3 linked regions of the Homo sapiens genome follow. The protein of the gene in region 1 interacts with the protein of each later gene in a pairwise test. Each region holds a gene or a part of one and is shown on either strand. Other genes may lie near its edges. The genes, in order: GLRX2, ELF5 and DCXR.

Region 1 (7,503 bases):
GGAGTCCAAAGGCCAGAAAGCTTCTGCAGAACCAAGGAGATCCAATTATCCAGTTTGAAGGCCATCAGGCAGGAAGAGCTAATGTTCAGTTCCAAGGACATCTAGCAGAACTCTTTCCTGGCTGGAGGAGGGTCATCATTTTGTCCTATTCAGACTTCCAACTGATTTGATAAAGCCTACCCACATTATGGAGGGCAATCTGCTTTACTCGGTCTTCAAATTTAAATGTTAATTTCTTTCCAAAACATCCTCACAGAAACACCTAGTGGCCAAATACTTGGGCATCCATTGTCTAGTCAAGTTGACACATAAAAGTAATCATTAAAGATATTGGGCTTTTTTTTTTTTTTTTTTTTTTTTTTTTTCAGAATTGAGTTGAGCTTGACTCAACAGTCATCTCCTAGGATAAATTGTACCTGTATTGATAATTGTTCTAAGGTGCTCCAATAATATGGGGATCTGTTGGGGCTGGGGGATGATGGTCTGATCTCAGTCTGGTTGGCTACTGGTACAGCAGAAGAATAACATGTTGAATTTCCAATAAAAAGAAGCAGCAAGCCCAATTCAATAAAAACTTCAAAGAATATCTAATAAATAGCCTTTGCGAAACCAAGAAAAGAAAGTAGAGGGCAGTAAAAGTAAGGCATATGACAGAACTAGATTTGTTGGTTTATTTGCTCTTTCAACACGGATTTTTAAATATGGAAACACAGACAAGTCATGCTTGCTTTTTTAAACCAACAAATTAAAATTGCGAACATGGCTAATTTCAAATCAGATTAAATAAAAAATTTCTGCATGGAAAGCATGTAATAGCTTTTGTCTTCTTCCTTACCACCTGGAGAGCTCTTCCCCTTCCCTTCTCCCTCTGCCCCCACCTTGTCTGCCTAACTCTTACTCTTGTTAAAACCTTAGGTTACAAGTTTCTTCCTCTGCCATTCCTTCCAAAATATCAAATTCAATTTAGGCCTTCCTCTTATGTATTATCCTAGGTTTTCATGAATGCTAGTGTCATTTCTGTGCTGTTCACTACAGTGCTTGGCACATAGTGGGCACATAAAATTTATAGAATTCAGGAACAAGAGGTTAACTATGGAATCCCATTATTTAATGGTGAGGGACTGAATATATAAATGGATAATGGGCAGAACACACATGACAATAAAACTCTGACTTCGAGCAAACAGACCAGAACAATTAGAACTTGGTTAATGACTACCAGCTTTCCAAATATGCTCCCCAAACCAGTCATATAGGATGCTTCCCTTCCAGTTGGCCTGCCTTCACGTCTTCATGCCAACAACTTTTTTTTTTTTTTGAGATGGAGTCTCACTCTGTCACCCAGGATGTAATGCAGTGGAGCCATCTTAGCTCACTGCAACCTCTGCCTCCCGGGTTCAAGCAATTCTCCTGCCTCAGCCACCAGAGTAGCTGGGAGTACAGGCATGCGCCACCACACCCAGCTAATTTTTTTTTGTATTTTTAGTAGAGACGGGGTTTCACCATATTGGCCAGGCTGGTCTCGAACTCCTGACCTTGTGATCCACCTGCCTCAGGCTCCCAAAGTGCTGGGATTACAGGCGTGAGCCACCATGCCTGGTCTGTCACTTTACTTTTAAAATGTACAACTTGATATTTTGATACATGTATATGTCTTAGTCCATTTTCTGTTGCTTATAACAGAATATCTGAAGCTGAGTAATTTGTATATAAATTGTTCTTACAGTATTGAATGCTGAGAAGTGCAAGGTCAAGAGGTCACATCTGGTAATGACCTTCTTGCTGGTGGGAACTCTGCAGATTCCCCAAGCCATGTAGGACATCATGGGACAAGGCAGCAGAGAACTCTGTTTTATAAAGCTGCCAGTTCTACTCCCATGATCACCCATTAATCCATTCATTCATGTTCCAGCTCTCATGCCCAATCATCTCTCAAAGGCCCCACCTGTCAGCACTGCCACATTGGACAGTTTCAACATAAGTGTCAGAGGGGACAAACATTCATTCCAAAGCCTGATACACTGTATAATAACTATCACAATCAAGCTAATTAACATAGCCACCACCTTTCATATTTACCATTTTTTTCTATTCCCTTTATTTTCTTCTCTCTTTTTCTTTCTTTCTTTTTTTTTCCAGACAGTCTTACTCTGTCGCTCAAGTTGGAGTGCAGTGACGCAATCTCAACTCACTGCAACCTCTGCCTCCCAGGTTCAAGCGATTCTCCTGCCTCAGCCTCCCGAGTAGCTGGGATTACAGGCGCGTGCTACCATGCTCGGCTAATTTTTGTATTTTCAGTTGAGATGGGGTTTCATCATATTGGCCAGGCTGGTCTTGAACTCCTGACCTCAGTTGATCCACCCATCTCAGCTTCCCAAAGTGCTGGGATTACAGGCGTGAGCCACCGCACCTGGCCCCATTTTCTTTCTTGTGTGCAAGTGTGAGAACACAAGATCTACCCTCTTAGCAAATTTCAAGCATACATTGCGATTTTCCTAACTATAGTCACATTGCTGTACTTTAGCTCTCTAGAACTTACCTATCTCGCATAATTGAAACTCTGTACCCTTTGACCAACATCTCCCCATTTCCACCTTCTCCCAGGCCCTGGCAACCACCGTTCTACTGTCTGCTGACATATTTCTTAACTTGCTATTGCAGTCATCACAACTATGACCAAAAATAATAATCACTTCTGTAGCTACCCCACGAAGCACAAAGAAGTTGAAAATTATCAATATATTTATTAATATATTATGCTGAATTCAGGCATAACACTTTCTTCTGAAGTACTTTACATTCTGAAATCCTTAAAAAAATCTGTCCAGTGAATTCTGTGCTTGATAATAGTCCATCTATGCTGTATTAAAATTAAATTGTAACATGATCGGTTCACCTCATAATGATCTTTATTTCATAAAACAATTTGAGATGAGGTAAAATTTGACTTCAAAACTAACATAACACCATAAATTTCCAAAATAGTTTTATAAAAAAATTAAAAAGCCCACAACACTATAGATAGATAACATACCTTAATTTTTATTTTATTTTATTTATTTATTTTTTTATGAGACGGAGTTTTGCTCTTGTTGCCCAGGCTGGAGTGCAATCGTGTGATCTTGGCTCACTGCAAACTCTGCCTCATGGATTCAAGCGATTCTCCTGCCTCAGCCTCCCGAGTAGCTGGGATTACGGGCATGCGCCACCACGCCCGGCTAATTTTGTATTTTTAGTAGAGACGGCGTTTCACCAATATTGGAGGGGCTGGTCTTGAACCCCCAACCTCAGGTGACCCGCCCGCCTCGGCTTCCTAAAGTGCTGGGATTACAGGACTGGCCACTGCGGGAGCTGCGGCAGCTGCGGCCTCTGGGTACGGGGTCAGCGGGCAGTCCTGTAATGGCCACATTACAGGACAGGCCATCGCGCCTGGCCACATGCCTTAATTTTCAAAGTCAAATTTGTCTTTAAAAAGAATGAATTCCTACCCTTTGGGGGTATTTATTTTTGCAACTAACTTCCATCCTTTTATTAAGTAATCAAACATAGCCCATTTGAATGTTGGAAAAGAACTGTCAGAAATACAAGTTCTTATTTTGTACTTTGGTAACATGAATTTTACACTTAGTTGAACATGAAGAATCAAAAAAGCTCTGGATTGTTGTAATAATTGTTTAGAATTTTAGATGTACCATTTGACCTTTGACTTTAAGATGAATTTCAGTGTCCTCAGTAAATAAAGGCTTACCCCCAACCTTAAATAGTGACGCACAAAGGCTATTATTACCACCACTGAGTGGCTTAAATAATCCTGTCAACAGCAATCGCCCATTTCCAAAGCCATGGTGAAACATCTCTGTGCTAATTTCTTTTGTTTTGTTTCCTAATTTTTTTTTTTTGGCAGGTGGTGGGAAATAATCTTTGTCTTCTTTGGAGTAAACCTTCAACACCGGATTTTTTCTTTTAATTATGGATGTAAACCCCAATATCCCCATAATTTACATTGGGTCTCGACCAATTGCCTAATTATAAGAGGATATATTTAGGCTCTTATTTCATCCACACAAAAACTTGTGTAACAGGTAGTTGGAAACATCTGAGGCACCACTTTGATTCTGTTTTGGATGGTCATGTTTTTTCTCCTCCGTTTCCCCAGCATGTCTGCCACCATCCTCATGCACTGCTTCCAAGTGCCTGGGAGCCTTTATGAGCGTCCCTAAACCTAAAAGAATCCAGAGGCGGGGCTCGGATGAACCCTCGAGATAAGCAAGTGAGCCGCTTCTCCCCTCTAAAGGATGTTTACACGTGGGTGGCACTCGCTGGAATCCAGCGCTCGGGCAGCCCTGGGAGGACGCGCTCAGCTGCGAGGAGGTGACCGGCGGCGGCGCGGGCAGTCCGGAGGGGCGGGACGGGGCGGGGCAAGGCGGGGGCCGGGCCGGAGGAGGCGGGCTCCCGGGATCCGCGGTGTCCGGCAGTAGAGCTCGCTGCAGATCCGGGCTCTGACCATGATTTGGCGCCGCGCGGCGCTGGCGGGGACGCGGCTGGTTTGGAGCAGGAGCGGCTCGGCAGGCTGGCTTGACAGGGCGGCGGGAGCTGCGGGAGCTGCGGCAGCTGCGGCCTCTGGGTACGGGGTCAGCGGGCAGGAGTGCCGCGGCGTGGTGCGCAGGCCTTGCGGGGGTCTGGAGAAAGCGGTGGGCGGAGGTGCCCCTTTGCCCCGGCGCCGGGTGGGCGAGGCGTACTAGCGCGTGGGCTCTGAGTCATAACACGCAGAGGCGCTCGAGGGATGGGCAGGGAAGGGTGCCCTCCGCGGCTGTGCTGACTTCAGGAGCCTGTGACTCTCGCGTTGAAAATACTTCACTCATGTTCACTTAGGCCATCCCTCTGTGAATTGCTACATAAAATACAAGACGCCGCAATCAATTGGAATTTCTCTGAAAGAGCGAATGATTCTTAGTCCAAGTGTGTCCCAAATACTGCAGTGGACATAGGAAAAACGGAACAGTTTTCTGGTGTTTGGTTACAATTCTAATTTGACCGGGCGTCCTGCATTCTTGTTTGCTAAACTTAGCCACCCTACTGCAGGAAGTGAAGGCGATGATTCCCGCTGAATGGCCAGAGCTTTTAGGATAGAGGCTGACTGATGGTGATGCCGCCTGCGGCTAGACCGAGGATAGTGCTTTCCTTACACTTCCTCGTTTGGAATATCAGCGGCTTCGGGACCTGCAGTGGAAGGGAACTGCGGCTGTGCTGCCCACGCCCGCGCGGCTGGTGCCTGGCGGTCCTGCCGGCTCGCACTTCCGCGCCTGCCACTGCGCACTTGGCCGGAGAGTCTGTCTCGCTATCTACTTGATCTGGGAGCTTCTATCAGTTTTGCAAGATTCTAGGAATCTCAAGTTTAACTTTCCAGACCAAGCTAGAGACCCCTCCTGAAGGGCTAATCACAGGCTGTTAAGTGTTTGACAGCTCTTTGAGGCCCCGCCGTGTTTTTTTCTGCGTATCCCTGGGGTCAATATAGCACTTTGCCTACTTAGCACACAGTAGGCGCTCCATAAATGTGGCATGACTAGGTGCTTCATCTGTGTTGAAATGAAATGTTTATTGTGCACTTACTTCCTCCGTGCATGTTTCTATTCATAGTTCGCGACAGTTTTTACCAAGGTCAACTAGAAATTGAAGGGAAAGGGTGTCTTCCAGAAACTTTTATTTGGGTAATATTTCAGAATGCACCTCCTACCTCCTCTCACTACCCAAGAAAACATTCTCTTGTGTTCTATTGGAGCTCCTTCAGTAGTAAATGCTGTAGTAGATGGTTTGGGTATGACAGTTTAAGTGCTGGACCTGAGATGAAAGGACTTGCTTTCTTAGTTGATAAACCAAATACAGCTTGCTGATTTATTCCACCAATGCTCTTCCTTAGGGCTAGGCCAGTGCTGCCTAACCTTTTCTGGTTTAGGCTTCAGGAACTCAACTTTCTTTTATCTTAAAGCTTCACCCTCCTCTCAGGTTGGCTGCAGTCTCCCTAGCTCGCTACCCTTAACTCCTTCCTGAGTTAAGCGCACAGGACTTTTTTTTTTGTTTTAAAGTGTTCCTTGCTAATACTATTAGGAAGCAAGGAATAATAGATTGTAAACATTGGGTAGGTTATAATGTTATAATGTTTAATTCCTGTCTCTTACTCTTCTTTGTTATAACTGAACAAACTGATGTTTGCTGTAGCTTCCTCACTCTAGGTGAGCTGATATCATAATCGTTCCCCCTTATCCGTGGTGGACACGTTCCAAGACCCTCGGTGGATGCCTAAAACCTCGGATAGTACTGAACCCTATACATGCTATTTTCCTATACATACTTGCCTATGATAAAGTTTAATTTATAAATTAGGCAGAGTAAGAGATTAACAACAATAATAAAAGAACAATCACTTTAATAACAAAATGCTCATTTCAAGGAATCCCTTGCTGAATCTTCTCATAGGCCCAGTGCTTTTTGGCATAACACATTGCTGTCAGTTGGAACACTTTTTCTGTTCTTGTCTCCACAAATTTAATACCTTTTCTGGCTTAACTAAGCACTTATACCTTGTGGCTGTAACTTGCAGTTTGAGGTGTGACATCAAAACTGCCATGAATTTTTTACTTCTTTACAACTGCACTGATAGAAGATCCGTTCTTACCATAGACCTTAGCAACCTCAGCGTGTGATTTTTTTTTTCCTATTAGGTGGAGAACTTTCACCGTTTCACTTAAAGGAAGCACTTTAGGGCTTCTCTTTGACGTACCTGAATTGCCAGCATCACTACTCTAGTGGTTTGGAGCCATTATTATTATTATTATTTAAGACGGAGTTTCACTCTTGTTGGAGCCATTATTAAGTAAAATAAGGGTTACTTGAACACAAGCATCACCACACTGTGACAGTCGATCTGGTCACCAAGACAGCTGTTGACTAAAGCGTGGGGAGCTTATACAGAGTCCATATGCTGGACAAAGGGAGGATTCATACCCTGGGTAGGAGGAAGCTAGATGGCTCAAGATTTCATCATGCTACTTAAAACTTACGAACTATTTTCTTCTGAAATTTTCCATGTAATGTTTTTGGACCACAGCTGACCTTGGATAACTGAAACCGTGGATAAAGGGGGACTACTGTGTAGGGCAGATGTTCATTATCCAAGGATAAGATGTACTGGAAAAAGCTATTAGAGTGGATTCACTTAAAATAAGACTAGTATTTCAGGCCAGGCGCGGTGGCTTACACCTGTAATCCCAGCACTTTGGGAGGCCGAGGTAGGTTGATCATATGAGGTCAGGAGTTCGAGACCAGCATGGTCAACATGGTGAAACCCCATCTCTACTAAAAATACAAAAAATTAGCCAGGTGTGGTGGTACATACCTGTAGTGTCAGTGACTCGGGAGTCTGAGGCAGGAGAATTGTTTGAACCTGGGAAGCGGAGATTGCAGTGAGCCAAGATCACGCCACTGCACTCCAGGCTCGGTGACAGA
Region 2 (7,108 bases), on another chromosome or scaffold:
GCTGGGCTCTTTGTGTGCATCATTTCTCAAACTTACCACGACCCACAAGGGTCACACTATTTTACAGATAGGGGAATGGAGTCTCAGACGATAAGCAATCCATAGACCCAAGCTATGGTCCTACAGACCCACACCCACGCTCTTTCTGTCACACTCTTTCCACCACGCTTTTCCCCACTGCTTTCTCCAGGTCTGGGATTGTTTTGGTTCATCAGCTTTTCAGTATGATCCTAAAAGAATGGTCAAGCCCATGTACCAATGACAACCTTGACAGAGCCTTGGGTGGCTTGCGCTTGGTTACTTACAGTCTTTGATGGTGGCCTTGCTTTCTTCAGCGTCATTAAAAAAGGAGTAACCTGGGAAAGAAAAAGAAATCCAGAAACCATACCATGCAATCCTGGTTTCCACTGGCCAGGCCAGGAGAGGGGGTGTTGGAGGGAAGTGGAGTGACTGTCCCTCTTGAGGTTGGTTACAATTTAGAGGGAACCTTGGAGACCATCTGGTCTTAGAGTGTCACCCTGAAGCCATCCCTGAGAGGTGATAATTTCCTCATTATTAAAGGTCATTTGGAGGGAGCACCCAGAACCAGGCTTCCCAGCAGCCTCTGCAGATTTTCTGAGCAGGCACTGGGGAGTAAGCTCTGGTCTGGGGTCCAGGGCTGGGCTCTGAGCTGGGCCGGGCTACTGATCCCTGTGCAGCCTTGCTCACTCAGTCTCTGGGCTTGTTGGTTTTTCTCATTGACATCACGAGATAAAATACCCACTAAGCTCCCCTGTGGCTAAGAGTCTATAGTCTCTGACATGGCCTCTAATCCCTTGGGGATTGGAATGCCTGTTATGTGCTGGTCAGTGGGGAGAATGGGCATAGGAGGTTGCAAGAAGTGCAAAGCTCTATGTGAATGCTGAGTTTAATGAGGATATGGAAGATGATGTCAGGACCTTGGTTCTCTCCTCTGTAGAATGGGGTGGGCTGGGGTTGAATGAGGAGTTTGAGATTGTGTTTTCACATAGCAGTTTAGGCTGAAGGATACCTATGTCCTAGCTTGGTCCAACACGAGGACTAATCTCTACTTGCTAAGCAGACTGGAGCAGGGCACAGTTGTGATTTTTTATTCTTGGCGTCATGTTCTCATTGGTTTTGGTCAGCCACGCGCCTCAGTTGACTCTGTCCAAAGGGCCGACTGAGAACAGGATGGGAGATTGAAGAGGGGCTCATTCCCCTCCTAGGCTGTGGAAGCCAACCTCTGACCTTGCTTCCCAGCAACCAGTGTCCCCAGGTTGCTAGGCCCTTAAATCCTACTGCAATACCTACCGAGCTGGATGGTGCTGAGGCCTTACAACCCCCTTCCAGCTCCTCTCCTCCATAAAACTGCCTTATTCTGTGTCCTGTTCTGCCAGAGTCAAAACCTATGGGGTAGTATAAGGCATACATGAGGTAATAACCCCCAGTCAACTGTAGAATTTATGATCTAAATGGAGACACTTTTGAGGATGAAAGGTAGTGCTATGGTAATAATAATTACTCTAGGATCACAGGCAGAAACGATGTCTCCTGGGCAAATGGGAGACAGTGTGAACTTTGATCACAATATATATATCTCCACAATCTACAATCCACATATCTGATTGAGAAACATTAAAAGAGGAATTTCAGAATGGAGTAGATTGGTGGAGTAGATAGTTTTACTGCTCAATATGGAACACTCCTGGCCTAGAGAGTGCTTGAAATCCCACCATTAAAGGTGGCATTGTGATTGCAGGAATTCCTTACAATAAGAAGAGGTAATGTATGACCTATTAAAAAGCAGTTGGCTTTTTTAGGTTTAGCCTATTAGTTTTGCACAGGGCCCTGGGGTAATAAAACCAGGGACAGGTTTGTTTTTTTTTTTTTTTTCAGGATTTTGCTCTTTTTGCCCAGGCTGGAGTGCAATGGTGCAATCTCGGCTCACTTGCAACCTCCACCTCCTGGGTTCAAGTGATTCTCATGCCTCAGCCTCCTGAGTAACTGGGATTATAGGCACGCACCACCATGCCTGTCTAATTTTGTATTTTTAGTAGAGACGGGGTTTCACCATGTTGGCCAGGCTTGTCTCGAATTCCTGACCTTAGATGATCTGCCTGCCTCAGCCTCCCAAAGTATTGGGATTACAGGCCTGAGCAACTGTGCCTGGCCAACAGGTTTTTTTTGTTTGTTTGTTTTTTGATGCAACCATTGCCAGGGAAGAGAGGTGCTTGTGGTGGGAGATGCCAGCACAGGGGCTGCACAAGAGCATGGAGACAAATGAGGTTGACTTGACATTTGGCCAAGCTGGCATTGCCAAACTGCATCTTTTTCCAGAATAAAATACACCCCTCTCTGTGGCCCTAGGATTTTTGTGCGAGCCTGTTCCCTTGGGAGGATCCTAAATGGAGTCCCAAGCTCCTTCTTCTGGAGCCGTTGTGACTTGGTCAAACTTGTCCTCTTTCAGGGAGTGCCCACTCTGAGCACAGGACACAGATCCCAGCTCTTGGCAGGTCATTGTCACTGGAGTTTTGGCTCCCAGGGCCCCAGCCATGTAGTGCCCAAGGGCCACCATTCTTAGCTTTTCTGCCTTCAAGCGCTCATGATGGATGAGGATCAAGAGGAGGCCAAAGAATCACAGAGCAGGAGGGTCCTCTGTGGTTTTTCTGTGCAAACAAGAGGCGCTGTCATATCCTCCTCTTCAAGCAGGGGGCTATTAGACTACTTGATTATCTCCAGTGGTGGGGATCGTCCTATCTCCTGTATCTTCTGAATTACCTTTTCAAAAGAAGGTACTAACCTTTAAAAAGATCCTTCTTAAAACTGAGCTGAGATAGGCTTCCTTTAACATCCTATAATATGCCTCTTGATTATATTAATGATGATGGAAAAACAGCTGCCATTTACTGCATTTCCATCTTCATATGCTGTTCTAGGTAATATTTCCCTGAATCCTCTCAAAAAGCCCATGGAGGTGTCATTATCCCATTGGACAGATGAGGCAGTGGGGATTCAGACAGCTTAAGCCACTCGCCAGAGGTTCCGTAGCTCGGAGTATTGGAGCCAGGGTTGGAACACAGGTCTTTCGGATCTCCAAGCCCTTGCTTTGTACTGACTTTCTGTGAATCAGCCCTGTTTGCTGTGTGACCTTGAGGAAGTCACTTAATGTCTCAGGATATCAGTTCCTTTATCTATGTGTGACTTTGAGACATTAGAGCTCGATGTTCTCAAAGAACCTTTCTGGATTGAAAAAATGTTCATCGACATTCTGCATGCAAAAGGCCTGTTGAAGAGTTAAATAATGCTATTGGCGCCACCTTCTGGCCACTTGATCCTTGACCATTAGGAATGTGATGAAATGATAATTAGTTGGACTCCTGTAGAAAAGGGAAGGTAGTCTATTTAATTTTATTCCTCTTCTGCTTAATGAGAGATGAAGCACAAACCTCTTTTTTGTCCATCCTGTGTGGTTTCAAATCATTATGAATATACTGTATTATTATCAGCCTGGTGCCTGGGCAGTCCCTGAACGTGGTGTCCGTTTTTCTTTCTCTTTTTTTAAATGCACTCAATTTGCATTTTTGTAACTCGCTCCCTTTTCCCTAAAATCCCCAATTCTGGCATACTAGCTTCCAGTTATTGAAGGTTTGGATTAACGAGAACTCCAGTTAGTAAAATTTTGCTGTGCAATTCACACGATGGGAAAGGACTTCTCAAAGTTGTTTGGTCCTAATCCTGGTCCCTCCCCTGGAGGTCTGGCCCTCTGAACACTGACCTTGTGTGCGGATGTTCTGGAGGATGAAGTACAGGTACTCGCCGCAGAGGCCAGCTGCCTCGACGAACTCCTCCTGTGTCATGCTGCACAGCTGCAGGCCACTGATGTTGAAGTTGCAGAAGGAGATGCAATTGGTGTCCAACTTGTACTGGTCGCAGCAGAACTGGAGCCACTCCCACACATGGCGCTTAGTCCAGTATTCAGGGTGGACTGATGTCCAGTATGAGTCACAGGCTGCACCAAAGGAGAAAGAAGTGAGGGACAACAGTCCCAAGACAGCCTTCGAGAGGGCCCCTGAAGGATGCATCAGTTAAGTAACATCCTCATTCCTCAGCCAATAAGTTGAAAGGGCCTCCAGCCCTGGGTGTTCTGCAGAGCCCAGGTCACCTTCTATTCTGCAGAGAAAACCAGAGGGACTGGATCCTACAGATGAACTTTGGCATCATAGAGGGAATGACAGGGGCAAGAAAGAACCAGTCTTGGTGCTGATGCTCAAAAAAAAAGGCATTTAGTGGAGAAAGAAAGAAAACAGCCCTTCAGTTATTTGATTCCAGATAACATGATATCAAAAGCACAAACTCAGCTGTTTGACAAGCTGGGTTGAAATTCTGATTCTACCACTTTCCGCTTGGCAAGGTCTGTGGACATTGAAGTCTCAGTTTCCTCATCTGTAAAATGGGGATAATATGCTCAATGCCCAGGACTATTATGGAGTTTGGGGTTAATGTATGTAGAATGGCACACAGAAACTTACCAACCAATTCAATAGTTACTAAATGCCTACCGTGTGTCAGAAACCATTTGAAGCTGGTTTTGATTCCCTATGCTTTAAAGGGCAGCTGCCCAATGCTGGCTATTTGTTTCTGCACAGTTACTGGCAATCTTGTGCCAAGAACCTTGGGTTATTAGACATTGCCCAGAGTCTGACAGTCCTTGCGTCACCATAGTAGGCACCTCCAGAGGAAGGTGGTCATGGGAGAGTTGGTTGTATTGTTGTTCTTGTGTTTTTGGTGGTGTTCAGAGTAATTTCTATCCTGAGATCAGAGCCCCCACTCCTTTAGAGGAGTCGTGTACATGCCTAGACAGTTGTGAGTGCCATCTGTCTGGGAGGCTGGCATGTGGCTTTGCCTGGCCCAGGGGTAGAGATTTGGTGTTCAACAGTTCTGTCCTTCTGTTCTTAGGAGAAATGGAAAGTGGGGTGGACATAAGGTATGGAAGAGGTGCTGTATTAGGTACTTGGTCAGGCTCTTTGACATAAACAATTATTGTATCTGCCATGGAAAACATTCATTCATTTATTCATTTCATTCAATAAATAAAAGCTTTAGTTTCCTTACTGGTAAAATTGGAATAATTACAGCACCTGTATCATAGTGCTGTTCTGCAGATTAAATGACTTAATATACATAAAAGTACCTGGAACAGAGCCTGGAGGATTTAAATGCTATTACAAACATTATTATTGAATATCTACTATGTGTGCAGCCACACGTTGTATGTTAAGGATTCATGGTGGACAGGTTTGGTCCCCCGTCCCCCAGGAGATCACAGAAGAGGAACTTGAAAGTCATGAAGGACTTTCCCAAGAACCCACGCCAGCGTGTGGCAGAGCTGGATTTGAACCCTAGCCTGAACTTGAAAGCCATTGCTCTCCCCACACCACCATACCGGGTCAGCACAGAGCAGAGATGGAACGTGAAGAGTGGCTGAGGCACGGGGAAAGCTGGAGAGAACACAACACGAGGGCCTGAAAAGAAAGGCAGAGAGCAGAGAGTGGCTAAGGTGACGATGACAGAAAGGGTCCCTCACATGTTATACCCCACAGCAAATAGCAGTGGTGCGATTTGCAGCGTTTAAAGGTGAGTAGAACTCGCACCATTGTCAGTTGCTGATGATTCCAGGCAGGAGGTGGGTCCTCTGCCTGTCAGGTGCTACTACTCACTCAGCACCCTCAGCCAGCCGAGGCGCTACGCGTTCTTGTCGTCTCAAGTTTCTCAGGTCCCCTCAACAATCCTATCCAGTAGGTGTAATTGGGCTATTCCACAAAAAAGGAAATAGAGGCTCCCCTTAAAACTCAAAGGTCTTCCAGAGATCTCTTTTACCACCGAAGGGTGGGTGGAGGGGCAGTTGATTTATTTTATTTAAAAATTTTCAGAATTTTATATGCATTAAGATCAAAGCGTCAATATTGTGCCAGGGTGCTTGAGGCTGATGTCGTAGCCTCTACCTGGCAGATAGGAAGAGCCAGGGAGCCGGTGAGACCGATGACTCAGGTCTTGCTCACTGGCCACTGGCTGGAGCTGGCTTACCAGGCCCGTGGGGGCTCTTCAGGGCAGGCAGGGGTTCCTGGCAGAACAAGGGGCCATTCCTGAGTTCGGCCTGAGCTTTCATCTACTGATTTCTGGCTTTAGTAAACCTGAGGGGCCTTTTGGACTTTACTGGCGTCCTGTGAGAGATGTTTATGAGCCTTGACATTTTTCAGCTGCGGGCCCTGCCCTAGATGGCCATCGGTGTGCGGCCGTCGGAGGGCACAGTTGATTTCATGGAAAGGTTTCGCCAAGGCTCTGTTCCCGTTTCCCTCCCCTCCCCTCTCTGCTTCCACCCCCTTGTTATTTTCTTTGGCACTTGAAGAGGGCCATATTGTTTGCGGAAGCCAAGGGGGCCTCAAGGATTCGGAGAAACGCCCAGGCGGGGAGTCGGCCCCACACCGGGGAGGTGTTGCTGGCGCTGGCTCCCTGCTCCTCGGCGCTCTGCTTTGAAGCTCACCCACAGAGCGGCTTTGTGTGCGGCCTCGGCCCCTGGAGGGGAGCCAGAGCCCTGCGGAGGCTCCCTCTCCTCATCCGCAAGCTCCTTCCAAAGCCCCAGAACTGGGAGGAAAATGGCTGCTCTGGGTGCCATGGCAGGCCTCTTTTCCGGGGGTCCCATCCTCAGGACGGGAGGAGAGTGGCAGAGCGGAGGCTGCCCAGACGAGGGACGCCGCTGTCAGCCCCTCCTCACCAGCCCCTCTCCTGCTCTTCTCTTTCAGGAGGCTCCACGGCCCAGAGTCTTCCCACAGCGACTTCTCTTTGGATGGAACGTGGTCCCCATCTGCCTTCTCCTGAGGAATCTCTGCTCATCCTCACTCCCCCTCGCAGAGGTCTCTTCCTCCTCACTGAGTGCCCATCAGGCGTCCTCCTCATCCCTCCCCTCCAGACCTAGAGCTTTTGCTCGCCCTGAACCAGGAGTGCTTGGAGCCTGGCCTAGCCCACCACAGGCCTACCTCAGTGAGTGTGACTGACTGACCAGGTGACTGACAGTCACTCTCTCCACTTTACACGTGAGGAGATTGCCGTT
Region 3 (6,613 bases), on another chromosome or scaffold:
CCGTGGTGGGAGGAGGCTTGACTTATGGTTACTTGTCTAGACTTCAGATGATAAAATGCAGATTAGACTTCAGGGTGCTGTGTCTATGCTCATTACATTGTGAATAGCACAAGTTGAGGAAACGCTCTTCTAGTTTCCGAAAACCATCATCTGATTCAACAAAGTGGCTCAGATCACCGACGAAGTGGAGAAGCTTGACGTTCTCCTTGTTTCCCTTTTGTCTTACTCATTAGCTTGAAGGAAGAGGAGCCAACTGTACACTCACAGAGGGGGCCATCAACACTCACATGCACACACCGTCTCACCCCAGAGGTTCTGGACAGGCCCGAAGGCCAACCTTGCTGAAATTCACCACCCTCTTTGGGAGGTGACCTTTCACCACCTCCCACCTCCCTGACAGAGAACTGGCCAGGCCTGAAAACCTCAGGAGTGGGAGCCACGCTCCCCCTTGGATTGGAATGTGAATGTCATGGGTCTCTGCCCGCGTTCCACACCTGGCCCCAAGCCCCCAGCTACCTGCTGGCAGCCTAGGAATAGCACATAGTCTGGGCAGCAGAATCAGGTTTATTGGAGGGATTGGGGGTAGGATGAGCACGGCATGGGGCTTGAGGTGTGTGGAGGGAGCTCAGCAGGCCCAGAAGCCCCCTTCCACCGGCAAAGTGGAACCCGTGGTCATGCCACTTCGGTCACTCAGCAGAAAGAGGATGGCGTTCACCACGTGCTCTACCTCTGTGGGCAGGGCGGGGGTCAGGGGCATAGAGGAAGGAGGCTGCCGCCCATCTTTCCCTCCCACCCCTACCCAGGGCACACACAGGGACTGCTGGCACCACGCTGGCTGGGCTCCCACCTGACTCACCAGCAAACTTGCCAAGTGGGATTCGGTTCAGCATAGTCTTGGCCTTGTGGGGGTCACTCCAGGTGGCCTGGCCCATGGACGTCATCACCACTGTGGGGTTTACTGCATTCACTCGGATCTACACCGGGACAGCTGGGGTCAGCAGGGCAAGTGGGGTGTCCTAGGTTGGGGGAGGTACCCCAGCCCTGCTCACCTTGTGGGGCCCGAGCTCTAGGGCCATCACCTTGGTCAGCATGTCCAGGGCACCCTTGGTGGAGCCTACGAAGAGGAACCCAAGCTGGCTGGGGCTGGGGTCGGTGATGAGGGCGAGGCTGGGGCTGGGGTGGGGCTGAGGGCACAGCTGGGGCACTCACAGTAGACGCTATGGTTAGTTACTGCCCGCTGGGAGCACTGGCTGGAGACATTCACGATGGCCCCTGGGACTCCCCGGGCTATTAAGCCCCTGGCCACAATCTGGAATCGCAGCGAGACCGTGAGGCAGAGCTGGCATCACTCACGAGAATTCCCGTCCAGCCCACAGGGCAGCTCACCTGCGACACCTGGATGACCGCACGCAGGTTCACCTCAAAGGATCTAGAGGCCGAGGGACAGACCCTGGTCAGAGATTAGGGCTGCTGCGTCCTCCAGGACAGCCCCTCCCTGAGGTTCCTCCGCCCTCACAGGCTCACCTGTCAAAGGCCTCCTTGGTGACCTCCAGGAAGGGCTGCAGCAGGGCGACAGCGGCGTTGTTCACCAGCAGGTCCACGGGGCCCACGCTGCCCAGCGCCCGCTCGGTGGCCTCCCAGTCACCCAGGTCCACGCACACGGGTTCTATCCCCGGGCACTGTGTGTATCAGGGGGCAGTTACCAGAGGCTCTGTGCCCAGCAAGCGGCACAGCTGGGGACTGGGGCTGGTGACCTTTCAGCCGGACAAGTAAAGGAGTTAGGAGTTCCGAAGGTGTCGGGACTGTGGGGCCAGCAGCCGGGCGCTACCTCCGGCCGGTTCACTTCCTCCCTGCGCCCGAGCGACTCCTGCCCGGGGCCTGCTTCGCAGCCATTTCGGCCTCTTTCTGAGCCCGGGGGCCCCGGCGGCTCTGCCGACCACCCGGCCGCCCACGCAGGCCACCAGCCCCGAGAGAGGGTGCGCGGGCGCCCAGGCCGCGGTGAGAAGCGCAGCGCCCGCGAGGGGAGGCGGAGTCGCGCACAGAGGTACCGCCCCCGCTCGCTGCCGCCCCCTCCTGGCTCGCCGCCTCGCAGCGCTGGGACCCGGCGGGACCTACCTCGCGGACAAGGCTGTCAAGATCCGCCTGAGTCCGGCTCACAGCCACCACCCGCGCGCCCGTCGCGTGCAGCGCCTGGACCGTGCCGCGCCCTATACCTGCCGGGAGCGGGCTCAGTGAAGGCGTCCCCTGCCCGCCTCTGCCCGCCGCCGGCCTTTGCCCACCTTTCCCCGCCGCCCACCTTTGCCTGCCCCGGTGACCAGCACCCGGCGGCCCGCGAGGAACAGCTCCATGTCGGCGCAGTCTCCGCCCTCCGCACTGGGGCTGCGGAACTTGAAGCTCTGGCCACGATGGGCGGGGCGCGGCGGGGCCAATGGCAGGGCGGCCTTCAGATAGGCGGTGGGGACATTCAAATAGCTGCTCCCCGCTGCAGTGATTGGCCGAAAGGAGTGGGCGCGCCGGGGCGGGGCGGGGTCTCCGCTGCCTCAGGGACGGGTCTTTTGAAGTGCCTGGTGTGACCCATCTTCCGTGCTTGAAATCGACGTAGTGGACCCTGGCTAGCATATTTTTCCCTGCCAAGATTATTGCAAAAAGACGATGTGGTGGTTAATATCGGAAAGAATGTGTGGTTAATATCAGGAAGAACACGTGAAATGGAGAATTTCAGGGCTAACATTTCTTGTTTTGTTTCTGAAAACATCGGCATGTCCTAAAAAGTGTCGCCTGTGCCCATCATCTCTCAGGCTTGGGAGCAGGACACCGCCGGCTCACTTTAAAGCCAAGGGAAAGAATTTGGACAACCAACTACGTCTGGAGAAGACACCAATGTCAGCAGAGCTCCGCTTTCATCTGTGGGCGAAGGATTACCTAGATGCCAAGGCAAGAGACTGAAGACACAAACTGTTTCAGTATAACAAAGAAAATAGGCCGGGAGCGGTGGCTCACGCCTGTAATCCCAGCACTTTGGGAGGCCGAGGCGGGTGGATCACGAGGTCAGGAGATCGAGACCATCCTGGCTAACACGGTGAAACCCCATCTCTACTAAAAATACAAAAAATTAGCCGGGCGCGGTGGCGGGCACCTGTAGTCCCAGCTACTCAGGAGGCTGAGGCAGGAGAATGGCGCGAACCCAGGAGGCGGAGCTTGCAGTGAGCCGAGATTGCGCCACTGCACTCCAGCCTGGGCGACAGAGCAAGACTCCATCTTTAAAAAAAAAACAGTTAAAATAAAAATAGTCATAATACAAATTAGATATAAAAATGATCATGATCATGGATAATTATCAATCATTAGTATAAACATTATTAATCATTAGCTTTTAATATTACTCTTTGTTGCATTACTAATATAACCTAGGGACATTGTGAGAAGTGACCTAGAAGGCAAGAGGTGAGCCCTCTGTCACTCCCGCATAAGGGCTGCTTGAGGGCTCCTTGGTCAAGCAGTAATGCCGTTGTCTGGGAAGCCACCCGTTACTTAGAAGACTGCGAAGGGGAGTCTCCTTTCCTTGGAGGCGTCAGGGAACACTCTGCTCCACCAGCTTCTTGTGGGAGGCTGGATGTTATCCAGGCCTGCCCGCAGTCATCCGGAGGCCTAACCCCCTCCCTGTGGTGCTATGATTTAATGGTCACATTTCTTGTCCACTTCCATGTTCCTCCCGTACTCCTGGTTCCTCTTTGAAGTTCGTAGTAGATAGCAGTAGAAGAAATAGTGAAAGTCTTAAAGTCTTTGATCTTTCTTATAAGTACATAGAAGAAAGCGCTGATGTATGGTCTTCTCTTTCTGTTTCAGCTACCTAAAAGGGAAGCGCCCCCTGTCCTATGATCACGTGACTTGCTTCACCTTGTCAATCACTTGGAAGATTCACCCTCCTTACCCTGCCCTCCTTGTCTTGTATGCAATAAATATCAGTGCGCCCAGCCATTCGGGGCCACTACTGGTCTCCGTGTCTTGATGGTAGTGGTCCCCCGGGCCCAGCTGTTCTCTCTTTATCTCTTTGTCTTGTGTCTTTATTTCTCACAATCTCGTGTCTCCGCACACGGGGAGAAGACCTGCTAAGCCCCATAGGGCTGTACCCTACATTCATCTGAAAGGGACTTGAACCCCAGGTCACCTTGGACAGCCAGCATCCGGCCAGGGGCACCTTTTAGAAGTTGAATAGGATAGGAAGGGATTGGGGTCATGGAAGTACATGGTGGTCCAGCAAAGACCAGCATTGCTTCCCGAGGCTTTGGGGTCAGTTACAGATGCGTGTGTGTGTGCACCCACACACTGGGCCTCCATGTAAAAGCTACTTTGTTCTGTGGGTCATGGTAGGAAAGTCTAGAACTACTGCCCTTCTGTGGCCAGGAGTGACCTTCTGTGGCCAGGAGTATGGAATTGGTGACTGTAGGGCCTTTGGATCATCTGGGGCTTTGGGCCCACAGAGGTGGACAGGCCGGAGGCAAGGGTGGCCAGGCACAGCAGGAGGCAAGGTCCTGGTTTGTTCTGGAGGACAGCCAAGTGCATGGTCCATATCAGACCTGGCACTGCGGCCAGTCCAACCCCCCCTTGGCCGCCCTGTAAACTCTGCTTTCTGCCCCTACCCTTGGAGCCTGCTTTCTGCCTGCCAGCAGCCAAGGGAAGGACACCCCTCAACCTGTCCTTCCTGGAAGGCCCATCTGCTTAGACCCCTCCAGCGGCCTGCACGTGCCCCCAGGAGAGTGGACCAGGCCTCACTGGTCCTGTTATCCGTGGCTCAAGCCCTGCTCCCTGTGAGTCCTGCTGGCTGGTCAGAAGCACCCTCGGCATCCCCTACCCCCACCCTGTGCCCTGTGCCCTCCCAACCACTGCCTGGAGGGCCCGATCCTGGCCCCTAGCCCTCTGCCCTCTTGCCCAGCTTTGGAAGATTCCCAAGGTCTGGGTAAAGTTACCAGTATCCAGATTCCTTCTCGAGCTCGAACCAACATTACACTTTTCCTAGAGTCAAAACGGGAGTTAACACAAGTATATAAATGACAATTAATACATTGGATAGTTTGATTGTTCGTCCAAATTTTGATATTCCCCACTAACAGCATATAACGAAGCTTAACACAACTCTATAGGAATAGTCACATTGGAGGTGAACAAAGCAGAATGTCTGAATCTACACTGATACTGAGGGAGAGGAGCAGTGGTGGCCACACCCGATGTTATCCGCTGTCAAAAAGCAATTTGAAGGGCCGGGCGCGGTAGCTCACCCCTGTAATCCCAGCACTTTGGGAGGCTGAGGCGGGTGGATCACGAGGTCAGGAGATCGAGACCATCCTGACTAACACGGTGAAACCCCGTCTCTACTAAAGGTACAAAAAATTAGCCGGGCGTGGTGGCGGGCGCCTGTAGTCCCAGCTACTCGGGAGGCTGGGGCAGGAGAATGGCGTGAACCCGGGAGGCGGAGCTTGCAGTGAGCCGAGATCGCACCACTGCACTCCAGCCTGGGCGACAGAGCGAGACTCCGTCTCAAAAAAAAAAAAAAAAAAAAAAGCAATTTGAGGTGCCCGGGGATGCTGAAGAGGTAGAGTGGCATACCTGGGTTGAGAAAAATTATCGTAATGCCAATTGGAGTCCCATAAAAGAGGACTGGCATCAAAAAGAGGAAAAGGGTTCAAAGGAGATTTATCATGGGGTTCAGAATCACGGACGCGAGGGGCGGTAGCAGGGACAACAGACAGAAAAGTTTCCCCTTCCCATACTCGCAGTCTGGATGTGGCAAGAGCCAATTTTCAAAGTTCTGGGTGTTCTGAGCTCAGAATGGGGAGTATCACACGAGCCCTCGGGGGACAATGTCCTTATTTTCCCATTTTAAGGGAAAGAAAGAGCTGAACCTCCTATACAAAGTAAAATGATGATCCTCGTTCTTCCAATAAGAAATAAAACAAGTAGCCTCCAGGCATTCCCTCCCGCCACAGGAGCAATTGTTTTTTAAATAGCCCTTTGGTACCCAGTCTATTACTAAACCATATGAGTCAGTTTTGGTTTTTTTTTTTGAGTCGAACAAGCATTTCTGTGAACCGGACCGATGAACGTTTCTACACAACTACCAAAGGGAAGCGGGTCCCCACATGCACTCAGGAAAAAGAAAAGCCACGTTGGCGCGCCAGATATCGGGGGAACCAGCCCCCAGTATTTCAATGTAGGTTCTTTCTATTTTCCATAAGTGTTGGCTGGCTGAGAAATGAAGAGAAAGAGTACAAAGAGAGGACTTTTACAGCTGGGCCTCCCAGGGCGACATCACATATCGGTGGGACCCTGATGCCCGCCTGAGCCGCAAAACCAGCAGGTTTTTATTAAGGATTTTGAAAGGGGAGGGGGTGCAAGAACAGGGAGTAGGTCACAGAGATCACATGCTTCAAAGGGCAAAAAGGAGAACAAAGGCACTTCAGGAGGCCAAGGCCAGTGGATCACCTGAGGTGAGGAGTTTGAGACCAGCCTGGCCAGCGTGGTGAAACTCCGTCTCTACTAAAAATACAAAAATCAGCTGGATGTGGTGGCACGTGCCTGTAATCCCAGCTACTCAGGCAGCTGAGTCAAGAGAATG

The links.
Region 2: the proteins of GLRX2 (region 1) and ELF5 interact in binary tests that used the Homo sapiens proteins (3 or more experiments, as listed by UniProt).
Region 3: the proteins of GLRX2 (region 1) and DCXR interact in binary tests that used the Homo sapiens proteins (3 or more experiments, as listed by UniProt).

What each region holds. Positions count from the first base shown.
Region 1 is NC_000001.11:193,102,385-193,109,887, reverse strand, and holds the start of GLRX2 (glutaredoxin 2 isoform 2 precursor), read left to right. Parts: upstream 1-4,473; 5' UTR 4,474-4,505; coding exon 4,506-4,624; intron 4,625-7,503. UniProt on the Homo sapiens protein: Glutathione-dependent oxidoreductase that facilitates the maintenance of mitochondrial redox homeostasis upon induction of apoptosis by oxidative stress. Involved in response to hydrogen peroxide and regulation of apoptosis caused by oxidative stress.
Region 2 is NC_000011.10:34,489,704-34,496,811, forward strand, and holds part of ELF5 (ETS-related transcription factor Elf-5), read right to left. Parts: intron 4,010-7,108; coding exon 3,776-4,009; intron 357-3,775; coding exon 306-356; intron 1-305. UniProt on the Homo sapiens protein: Transcriptionally activator that may play a role in regulating the later stages of keratinocytes terminal differentiation. Isoform 2 binds to DNA sequences containing the consensus nucleotide core sequence GGA[AT].
Region 3 is NC_000017.11:82,035,335-82,041,947, forward strand, and holds DCXR (L-xylulose reductase), read right to left. Parts: upstream 2,364-6,613; 5' UTR 2,349-2,363; coding exon 2,297-2,348; intron 2,214-2,296; coding exon 2,116-2,213; intron 1,680-2,115; coding exon 1,525-1,679; intron 1,430-1,524; coding exon 1,387-1,429; intron 1,310-1,386; coding exon 1,210-1,309; intron 1,115-1,209; coding exon 1,050-1,114; intron 975-1,049; coding exon 857-974; intron 730-856; coding exon 626-729; 3' UTR 524-625; downstream 1-523. UniProt on the Homo sapiens protein: Catalyzes the NADPH-dependent reduction of several pentoses, tetroses, trioses, alpha-dicarbonyl compounds and L-xylulose. Participates in the uronate cycle of glucose metabolism.